Regions from separate parts of the Homo sapiens genome. Here region 1 is reported to be linked to region 2. The links are microRNA targets in miRTarBase. Many come from high-throughput screens and were not tested one by one. Region 2 holds a microRNA gene; the other region holds the end of a gene's coding sequence.
Evidence for each region. The annotated mature microRNA hsa-miR-4698 reads UCAAAAUGUAGAGGAAGACCCCA and lies in region 2 at 2,799-2,821, opposite strand. An mRNA with a match to its seed (bases 2 to 7 or 8) in the 3' UTR can be bound and repressed. Matches are read on the target gene's strand: a 7mer-m8 pairs with bases 2 to 8, a 7mer-A1 pairs with bases 2 to 7 and ends in A, and an 8mer does both.

Region 1 (5,000 bases), not on the chromosome of region 2:
ACAGGTGAGAGGCTTTCTACTTAATTTAATTTTTCCTGGAATTACTAAGCCCCAAGTATCTGTGTCATAAGAGATTGGCTTTTGCTTTTCCTCTTTGGAGAGGGAAAGGATGGGAAAGTCAGGAGATTGAAGGCCTATGTTTCTTCCAGAACCCAGGAAGAGTGTCCAAGGCATCCATATTGTTGGGTTATCATGAGATTTTTGTCTCTCCCCTAACAAAAATAATTGAGAATGTAAAACTCACCAAAGCTTCCCTCGCCAATTTCAAGATACGCCAGTTTCCCAATGTGCAATACATTCATCCAGCCCAATCTTCCAAGTCTGGTAAGACTATGTACCTGTGTGTGGTTGACTTCTTTTGTCCATTCTTCTCTTTCCAATCAGCCTGTTCCTGTGACACCCAAAGGGTCACAATTAGTGGCCGAAAGTTTCTTCCGTACCCCAGGTGGACCCACCAAGCCAACCAGCTCATCCTGCATGGATTTTGAGGGTGCTAATAAAACCTCCTTAGGAACTCTCTTTGTCCCACAGCGAAAACTGGAAGTCTCAACAGAGGATGTCCATTAATCAACAGATGTTGGCTTAGTTTAATTTTCTAAAGAGTTGTTTAATAGAGAAAATGTACACAGACTGATTTGGAGAACACATTCTCTGAAAATACTGTAAATACGTTGGGGATTTGTTCAATGTGAAATCAGATAGTTGTTTTCATACATATATATATATACACACACACACACACACACACACACACATATATTTGTATAAAGCTAAGTTTAGCTTTCAATCCTACAAAATAAAAGTAAAATGTTGAACTCTAAGATATATTAACTTCTAGGGGGAAAAATCCATTATTTTAGCTATGCCTATACTATTATGCAAAGTAACTGTATTAAAGTTTACTTCCCTCTAAGCAAATATGCTTGACATGCCTAACACAGCATTCCCTTAAACATTTTGCACAAAGAAAATGCTGTGTGATGTATAATGTTGTATTTTTAAATAGGGGTATAGCTATATTTTTTGTAATTTCTTTAATCTGTTGTTGCAGTGTATCTTTTTGTAAAGTTTGCAACAATCCTCAATCAAGTCTATGGAAAAATTATTTATAAAATGTATTTTTAATCATAAGTTGTTCAAATTAAAACTTTTCTAAAATATAGTTAGCATTTTCATTTCGCCGGTTAGGGCACTGTTGGGAGAAAATTAAAATTTACCTAATCACAGAGGCAAATTCTTAGTAAAGAGTATCCATGCTGGGTTCCATTAGATATGCAAAGTTTATAGAATGTTTCTACATTCTGTCCCCCATTTTGACCCTTGAGATTGCTCCACTTTTGCAGAAGTAAAATTGGCTTTGGAGAGGTTGTTGCTTGGCCAAGAACACCTAGCTAAGTCCCATGTGCTTCCTACCACACTCCACGAGATTAGAAATGAAAGGTAGGCGCCTAGGGGCCCTGGTGTGACCAGCATCTGTCCCACGCTTCCTGCTCTACTCAGAGGTGGGTCTGTACCAGCTCTCTTAACATACTTCTTGGATGGCCCAGCTCCAGGGACAGGAAAACGGCAGTAAGGATTCTAATGTCCTCCACACCTGGAGAACCCCCAGGAGCTCCAAGAGAAGGGACAAGTTCCAGTGTGTTAAGTGTGCATCTCTTTGACCCGTTTGTTATGGGAAGAACTGCACCTTGAGAATTGACAAGTGCTTTCCCTGGTTAGGGTCTTAAAGGAGCATCATAGTATCTATTTCCTACATGTTTACTATATGTAGACAGGGTTATACGTTTTAAATGTATCATATCTGTGAGCTACAACTGAGGCTCACAGGGATTAAAGCAACAAGTCCATGGTCACACTGCTAGTGTATGCAAGTCTCAGCTCATGTCTATTGGACCTCATTATCCATTGCCCATTTACTTCTAGAGACATGCCTAGCAGCTCTAGTAGGAATCAAGCACATTGATTCAGGGTAATCTGAGCATTAATAAAGTCAGCCCTTTCAAATACACATGTTTTGTTTGCACAACCAAGTACAGCTAGAAGAGGGCAGATTTGCACCTTGACCTAGAAACCCCTCTTCCTCCACCACTAGAGAACCAATATGAACTATTTCCTCCAAAGTACCTTTGTTTTTATCCTTCTTAGAGAACAGGTGAATGGTCTCTGATTTAAGAAATGGCCCCTGCCTTCAAGGTGCTTATAGTTGAGAAAGATAGTATGTACACATGAATAAATAAAGCATTTCCATGCAATAAAGAGAAAAGATAAGTTGCCCAGTGGTAGATAAAGACAAAATATATAGTTCTGTAGAGGCTACTAGATTTAATTGGTTACACGGAACTATGAGAGAAACACCAAGACAGACAGCTGCTGTGTCTCTGAGGAGGTTCTTACGTCTCCCTCCCACTTCTCCTCTGTGGTTGAGCTAGAGAGATTGGAAGCCAAGGTTTTGTTTTGTTCCCCTCATCAATTCTCCACATAAAGAATTACCTTCCTGGGGAAATTAGACGCATAGGAAGAAGGGAGGTGTTAGATTTCCAGGCAGCTCTGGACACTGTCCCACCCAGTACTGCTTCTCTGACAGGTTTGTGAGGTTGCCCCTTGATCCCCACCTCCTGGTGTTTACACCCTTGTGTTCTCCCCTCCCCTTGAGTGTGGCTGGGACCTGTAACTTACTTCTAACCAATAGGATACAGTAAAGGTGACGGGGCGTGTGACTGTGTGTGTGGTTATGTGGTCACATGTCATAAGACTGTGGTGCCCATCTTGCTGTAGTCTCTCTCCCTTGCTGGCTTTTAGGAATCAAAGCAGCCATGTCGGTGGGCCCAAAGTGGCAAGGGCCTGTGGGCAGCCTTTCAGCAAAAGGCAGGCCGTAGCCAACAACCAGCAAAAAACAAATCAGTCCTGCATATGGCCACAAATTCTGCAAACAACCTGAATGAGCTCAGAGTGGCTCTTTCCCCAGTCAAGCCTCAGATGAGACCACAGCTCCCAGTTCCACTTTGATCGCAGCCTTATAAGACCCTACAGAGGACCCAAACTGAGCCATGTATGGATTCCTGACACACAGAAACTATGAGACAATAAACATGTATTTTAAGATATAAGTTTGTGCTAATACTGTTATACAGCAATAGATAACTATTATAGCCACATAAACCCCCATTGTTCACAAAAGTCTTCCAGGTTTGTCCTATTATTGTTCATTGGTTTCACAGGCATTCATAGAAGGAAACATCGCTAAGACGTGGTAATTCCAACGGCTTTAATGGGAGAAGCACTCTCCATTTGTTTTCAAAGCTGGAAGCAACTTTAAAGATACTAGGTAGTAGCACAGTAGTGGACAAAGTTATCTGGCCAGCATGCAATGGGAAAAGTTTCTTTTCCCAAACTGCCTCCTTATTTCCTCTAAGGAATGACATTTTCCATGTTGGATGGAGCCCAGTGGACTGTAAATGTAACATCCAGCCTGGGCCAGCCCCCCGGGATTGGATGTTCCATCTCATCCTAGCAGTGTTGTTCTTGCTGTCTGTCCCTGCTGCAACTGTTGCTGAGGCTCCTGCTTCCCAGCCTCTGAAGTGGCCATGGCACCAGCCCATCTTCAAACCAGATTTTCAGCCATCCGCTGAGTCTGGGCCTTTGCTATCCTTCCAAGAGTTTCTTTTGCTTAATGTTGCCAGTCATTTCTGTGGCTGGTAGCCAAAGGGCTCTTACCAGATCACAGAAGGAAACCCAGAGCAAAGGCTTCCTAGTTCTCAGACTAGTTGTTCCCTGTTCCCTGGGCCTGGCAAAAGTCAGCCAAAGAATGAATAGAAAAGGCCTTCAGAAATGCTTATCTCGCCAGGAAATGCAAGCAACTCACCTATGCTCAAGTGGATGTAAAGTACAATTTCAGATACCAGAAAGGGAAGTAGTTGAACTAATAGATTCAAGAAACCCAGGAAACTCAAGCAATAGAATTTGATGAAAAAAAAATTTGTTAATCGACTTTAAAGCAAGTTCTCTCAGTCTTGTCCTTCCCAAGTGATTAGTGTTTCTGAAGATAAAGGATAAAGAGATTTTCAGAACTTAAAGCAGATAAGCTGCCTGAGCAATCCTACTAATTATATAAAAGAATGTGAGTTGACTGCAGATTCTTTACAGTACTTATCAGTAGTAGTTTTCATATCTTGAGGGCTTAAAATAAGAGATAAGCTCAAAGGAAATGTGTTATTATTTTAGGTTGACAAAAGGTATCAATTTCTTAGTCAACTTTTTAGGAAGTAGTTTTACATTTTAGTCTCCCATTTGAGTGAACACAGGCCAGTGACTTGCTCAATCAAATCAGCGGCTAAATGAGGACTTGTTATGATTGTCAACATTTTGTAGAAAAATGTAGGTAAGGAATATATTATCGTGTCCTCCAGCAGTCAAGTAATCAAGTGCATTTTTAAAAGGCCCTGTATATACTGAATTCTTTTTCAAGTATTTACTAGTTTTTACCATATGCTCAGCACTGTGTCATGCAAAACAATGCCTATATTATCCTATTTTGTTTCATAAAAATATCCTCTATGTGTGAATCTTCTAGAAGTTCATCGTGAATAAGAACAATTTTGTTACTATGAATTAAAATCTTTCTAAAATGATAATATAGCTCCCCATTTCCTAAATAGAGCACTGTACTTTGACTATAATTTAAACTTTTCTTCACATTTCAGAAATTCATGAGCACTGTTGCTTTGTTAAATTCAAATTCAACAAACACAGTTTAAGCCACCTATGATACCGTAATGCCTTCAGGGGCTAATAAATGTATAGGTCCACATCTTTTTCAAATTAATGGCTCCAGAATATTTTCCTTTTCAAGTTCTTTTTTTTTTTTTGTGGTTGTCTGTCTCCAACTTTGATATCAGCTTCTACTTGTCTTGCCCCTCTATCCTACCTTATGTATTATTTATATCTCAGATAGACATGTATATGTATATATGTTTTTATATGACTTTAAGTACATATATCTA
Region 2 (5,176 bases):
GAGCACAGAGTGCCATGCCTGCCACGCAGAAACCAGTAAGCATGAGTTAGTGTTACTATTGTTGTTTGAAAGGATCAAGATTCTGTGTAAATGAGTCACAGGTATCCCAGATGCAGGATTTGCATAGCTGCTATAAAGAGGGTTTCCCACTGAAACTGGTGTAGGCATAAAGAACCCTGTGTTTCTCGTACAAAGGGAATTGAGAGAAACCACTTCATCCTTAACCTGCAGGGAGCTGGAGGAAGAAAGACCTGGAAGAGGCGACCAAAGTGAATGCATGGGTGCCAAAGGTTGGAGACCAGGACAAGGAGGAAGTGGGTTAGAACAGATGGAACTTGGGTGAGGTCTGTATCTATTTTGGAAACTGAAGCCCAGAACTGGGGCCACAATGGGGCAGGCTTTCACTTGCTCCCATTTATGAACCAACCAGCACCATGGGAAGAACGGGGTGGGATAGACTGAGAGACAACTGAATTGTATGCATTTTTGCTTTTTGGCTGATTATTCCAACTCAGGATTACACGAACTAATGCATGTGAAAGCATTTCCTAAATAACAAAACACTATGCAAATAGAGTATTAACATTTTTCTTCTGTGTAGAATTTATACCTAGAGATTCCCTCAAGTGATACTGAAGTAGTTTCTGCACTTCAAGCAGGTGTCTGAGCACAGTGCATAGAGGAGGGTCTGTGGGACTGGGAGTGGCCAAGGGAGGAGCCGAGCAGGGCTGGAAGAGCTGACCCAAGAGGCAGCTCTTCTGTGGATCCCAAGCCTGGAGCAGCAGAAGTTATGCTGAGGTTTTGCCAAACATCCCCAGAGTCTTCTGTTTGGAAGTTTCAAGGATATGCATTTTGTTAGTAGGGTTAGATGAGGTGAAAATGCGAAGCTGGTGATAAACGAAAGTTGTGCTTCAAGAGTTTGGCTCCTAGTCCATGTTTATTAATTGTTTGCTGAAATGAAGACAAGTGTGAGATGGTAATATAACACTAAAGTGTGCTAATAAGTCCATGGTGCTATGCTGAAAGTGCAAATAAGACCTTGCAAGTAAGTCCATGGTGTTTTGGATTTGATGTTAGCGGTAGCAGAAAGCCACTAATATAAGCCTTGAATGGTGTTCAGGGATCTTGTAAACTACTGAAAAGTGAGGAAATAAATGTATGTCCAAGGTCATTCATTTATTTAGCGGCCTTTAAAGAGGAACATTTTCACTGTGAGATAATAGTTGCTGTAGTGACTTATTTAAGCAAGATTACAGGCTCTTCTCTAAACAGGGCTGCACCTCTCCATTCACGGCACAAGAATGCACAATAGACTGGATTTTGAAATCAGTCTGCCTTCTGCTAACCAAGCCATGCACCCTAGTGTAGGGCTGCATCTCCTCAGAGAAAAGGACACATTTTTCCACTTTGCACAAAGGCATCCAATGGGGTAATGGCGGCCCTGTCTTGAACAATCTAAAAACACAATGCATGCTTTTCTGCTTAGACAACTTCTCAGGGTCACTTTCAGACACTGGGCTAAGAACCAATGAAACAAGCAATAAAGCTGAAGAAAAAGAAGATAAAAAACAATCAAAATGTAAGATAGAGGAAATGAAAAAGAACAGCAAAGTGAGCTGAATCATGAACAGCAGGAAATCTCGAGATAAGTGGAGGCTGTCCCTACATATTTCTGGTACTTTGAGTAAACATGGAGAGAAAGTTCACAGTGACCTAATCAGAAGCAGAAATGAAAATGGGGCAAAATGCCATGTGGGGGCATTTTGCAATAAGAAGCAACAGGAGTCTGGCACCTAAATCCAGCAACTGTGTAGCCAGGGTTGGAAAAAGTCCAGGTTACCAGCAACATGCCTGTTTTTTACGGAGAATGAGTGAAATGAATATGCTCCCAATGGTCCTCTGAGTTCTTCACATTCATCCCAACTCCCTTGCTCCTCTGCTCCAGCACTGCAGTGGAACTGGATGGCTACAGCTTACATTGCACGTTTCAATTTGGGCGATGGATGAGAACTTCTGTACTATGTTTGCATCTGCAAGACTCTGCTACTCTTGTTTTTAACTTCTGGATGTTCAGGTACACATTGAAAAAAGGAAGTCCTTAACTCTGAGAAGCAGTATCGTCCTGAAACTACCTAAGAAATGGCTCAAATCCTTTCAATTTCCAAGGAAAGCAAAAGTTACACATTAGAAACTGAGATGACAATACCTAAGCATATAATTTCATTGAGATAGATTAGATTAGCTTCAGGGACATATATGGCTCACAGTATATTCCATGCTTCTCCATAGGCCAGGAAGATTTGCAGCTAACACCCTTCCTGAATTCTTGTCCCTATAGGGCTTTTGTGTGGGACATCATTGATCCCTATGAGTTCCAGCTGAGGAATTTATGACATATTCTATTCCCCCCTGAGATTAGCCTTTAATAATTTATTTATTCATCCAACATTTAAGAGACCCCAATGGTGTTAGATGCTGGGAACCCAAAGACAACTAAGGCAAGATCACTGTCCCCAAAGTCCTTAGTAAGGGGAGATAAGACATGTAATTTTTAAAAGCCACAAAATGCTATGGTGCCATGACAGAGGTATGTCTGGGGAACAGAAGGGACTCCAAGAAGGAAGAGGTGCTTCCAGGTAAGACAAACTGTGGAAATAAAGCAGCTATAGGGCAAAGAACTTGTTGCAGTCAGGAAGATGCAGGTAGATCAGGTGACCAATTACAATCCTGTTCTTGGAGCTGGTAGGATAAAGGACAGACCCAGGTGGAAGAGGCGCAGGTGAAAGTTTTGCTCCTTCTGGGGTCTTCCTCTACATTTTGACCCAGGCCCGTCTAGGTGGAAATGTAGAGGAAGACCCCAGGAGAAGCATAACTTTCCTTTAACCCATATATCACAAGACTTGGCTGCCTTATGATGAAGCTATAGTTCCCAAATATGTCTTCAATGAAGAAAATTTAATGTTTAGGAATTCTAGAACTTGCAGAGTTGGGAGTTGCCTGGGAGATGAAATGTTCTCTCCATCACCTCCAGCCCTTGGTGCTGAGTTCATTAGCATGTTTAGTTCTAATTTTAGCTATGAAAAAATATATTTTAAAATATTGACACATTTATTATTTAGTGCTGGATTTAACTGTTTACACTTTCACTGATAAAAGATTAAAAATATGTCTTACTATATACTGCTGCCTATAGTTAAAACAGCATCCCTGTTTCTCTTTTTCTCTCTTGTTCTCTATTTTTGAAACTGAGTTAATAATCCCCTTGATGTAGAGATGGGGGATTTTCATCAGTACCAGATCATTTCACCTGCCTTTTCTCCTCCCTGAGATTTCCAATTTCCTGGTGCTTCCTTTTCACTACATTTACCACCCATTTCTTGGTTTTAGGTAAGATCCCATGGTCTCTCCCTATGAACACTATCTCTCACATAGTGTCAGCATTTCTAACTTCTTACCCTGGAGCTATCCACCTGGATCTTTCACCTAAACTCCTGAGTGCTTCTGGAGAAGGTAAAGATCTGTTTTGAGATGAATCTCAAACACTGTTAAGTAGGGCAGCATTTCTAAAGTCCACAGAGCAGCACAGTGGTCCACCTTCAAGTGTGATAGGCACTACCCACTACCTCCCCAAGAGCCATTTTCCCTTCTTTCAGTGTGTTCAGGTGGTAAGGAGAGATCTTTGCTTCCAAGGAGAGTGGTCCCCGACTCCAGGATAGGCCTAACCAGTCATGGAAATCTCCTTCCCTTTATCAATTGGTTGTTCTTGGTTTGGGCATTTGACCTTGTTCTGGCCAATAGGATATAAAAAGAAATCAGCTGGAGATATCCTAAGTAAAGACAAGATTTTGTGCTGTGTTAATTTCCTTGGGCTGCCATCACGAAGTATCACAAACTGGGTAGATTACAACAGAAATGTAGTATCTCACAATTCTGAAGGCCCTCAGACTGAAATAAGGTGTCAGCAGGGCCATGCTCCTTCTGAAAGCTGTAGGGGAAAAAACCTTTTCTTGTCTCTTCCTGGCTTCTGATGCTTGCCAATGAAGGGGTTTGGATTATGCCACCCCACAATATGCCACTCTGGCATATGGATTATTTTGACTTGAAGGCAACTGAGAAAAAGCAGACCCAGGATGAGATCTCTGTCCGCCTCCTATCTGCCTGAAAACAGAACATAAGCTCCCCTTGTGAAAGTGCCCCCCTCTACCCCCCTACCAGTAAAGGGATAACATAAAGGGACAACACCTTATCACTGGAGACAAGATGTCATCCAGAGGAATCTACAAAAACAAAACGTATTAACTAGCCCTCATCTACCATAAGTTTCCCCATATATTTGCCTTCCCACAATTTGCTGCCCCTAGAAGCTCAAAGTCATTTTCCTTTGTCTTGCCACTTCTCTACAAAATTATTGTTCTTTGCTCAATTCTATGTAAGTTCAAGTTCTTTTTTTTTTTCTTTTTTTTTAGACGGAGTCTCACTCTGTCACCCAGGCTGGAGTGCAGGGGCGCGATCTTGGCTCACTGCAACCCCTGCCCCCTGGGTTCAAGCAGTTCTCCTGCCTCAGTCTCCTGAGTAGCTGGGATTACAGGGGCGTGCCACCACATCTGGCTAATTTTGTTATTTTTAGTAGAGATGGGGTTTCACCATGTTGGTCAGGCTGGTCTCAAACTCTTGACCTCGTGATCCGCCCACCTTGGCCTCCCAAAGTGCTGGGATTACAGGTGTGAGCCACTGCACCAGACTAAGTTCAAGTTCTAACCACTCCTTTGAATTACTTATTACTGAATACTCCTATGTGTATGTGCAATGCATATTTCAATAAACTTGTTTGTTTTTCTCTTGTTAATCTGTCTTTTGTCAGTCTAATATACAGTCTTTTTTTTTTTTTGAGACTGAGTCTAGCTCTGCTGTTGCCCAAGCTGGAGTAGTAGTACCACGATTTCAGCTCACTGCAACCTCCACCTCCCAGGTTCAAGCAGTTCTGCTGCCTCAGCCTCCTGCATAGTTGGGATTACAGGTGCCTGCCACCAAGCCCAGCTAATCTTTGTATTTTCAGTAGAGATGGGGTTTCAACATGTTGGCCAGGCTGGTCTCGAACTGCTGGCCTTAAGTGATCCACCCCCGTCAGCCTTCCAAAGTGCTGGGATTACAGGTGTGAGCCACCGTGCCGGGCCAC

Region 1: the mRNA of E2F8 is a reported target of hsa-miR-4698. Seed matches in the 3' UTR shown: 7mer-m8 at 954-960.

What each region holds. Positions count from the first base shown.
Region 1 is chr11:19,220,225-19,225,224 of GRCh38, reverse strand. It overlaps E2F8 (E2F transcription factor 8), which reads left to right. Exons shown (of 13, transcript NM_024680.4): 12 at 1-4; 13 at 385-1,162. The coding sequence ends at 567. All of the region lies in intron 1 of CSRP3-AS1 (CSRP3 and E2F8 antisense RNA 1), which reads right to left. Among named protein-coding and RNA genes, the nearest start is that of E2F8, 18 kb to the left of the region's middle.
Region 2 is chr12:47,185,505-47,190,680 of GRCh38, reverse strand. It overlaps MIR4698 (microRNA 4698), which reads right to left and starts at 2,869; the gene lies at 2,790-2,869. The region is part of intron 2 of PCED1B (PC-esterase domain containing 1B); the gene reads right to left.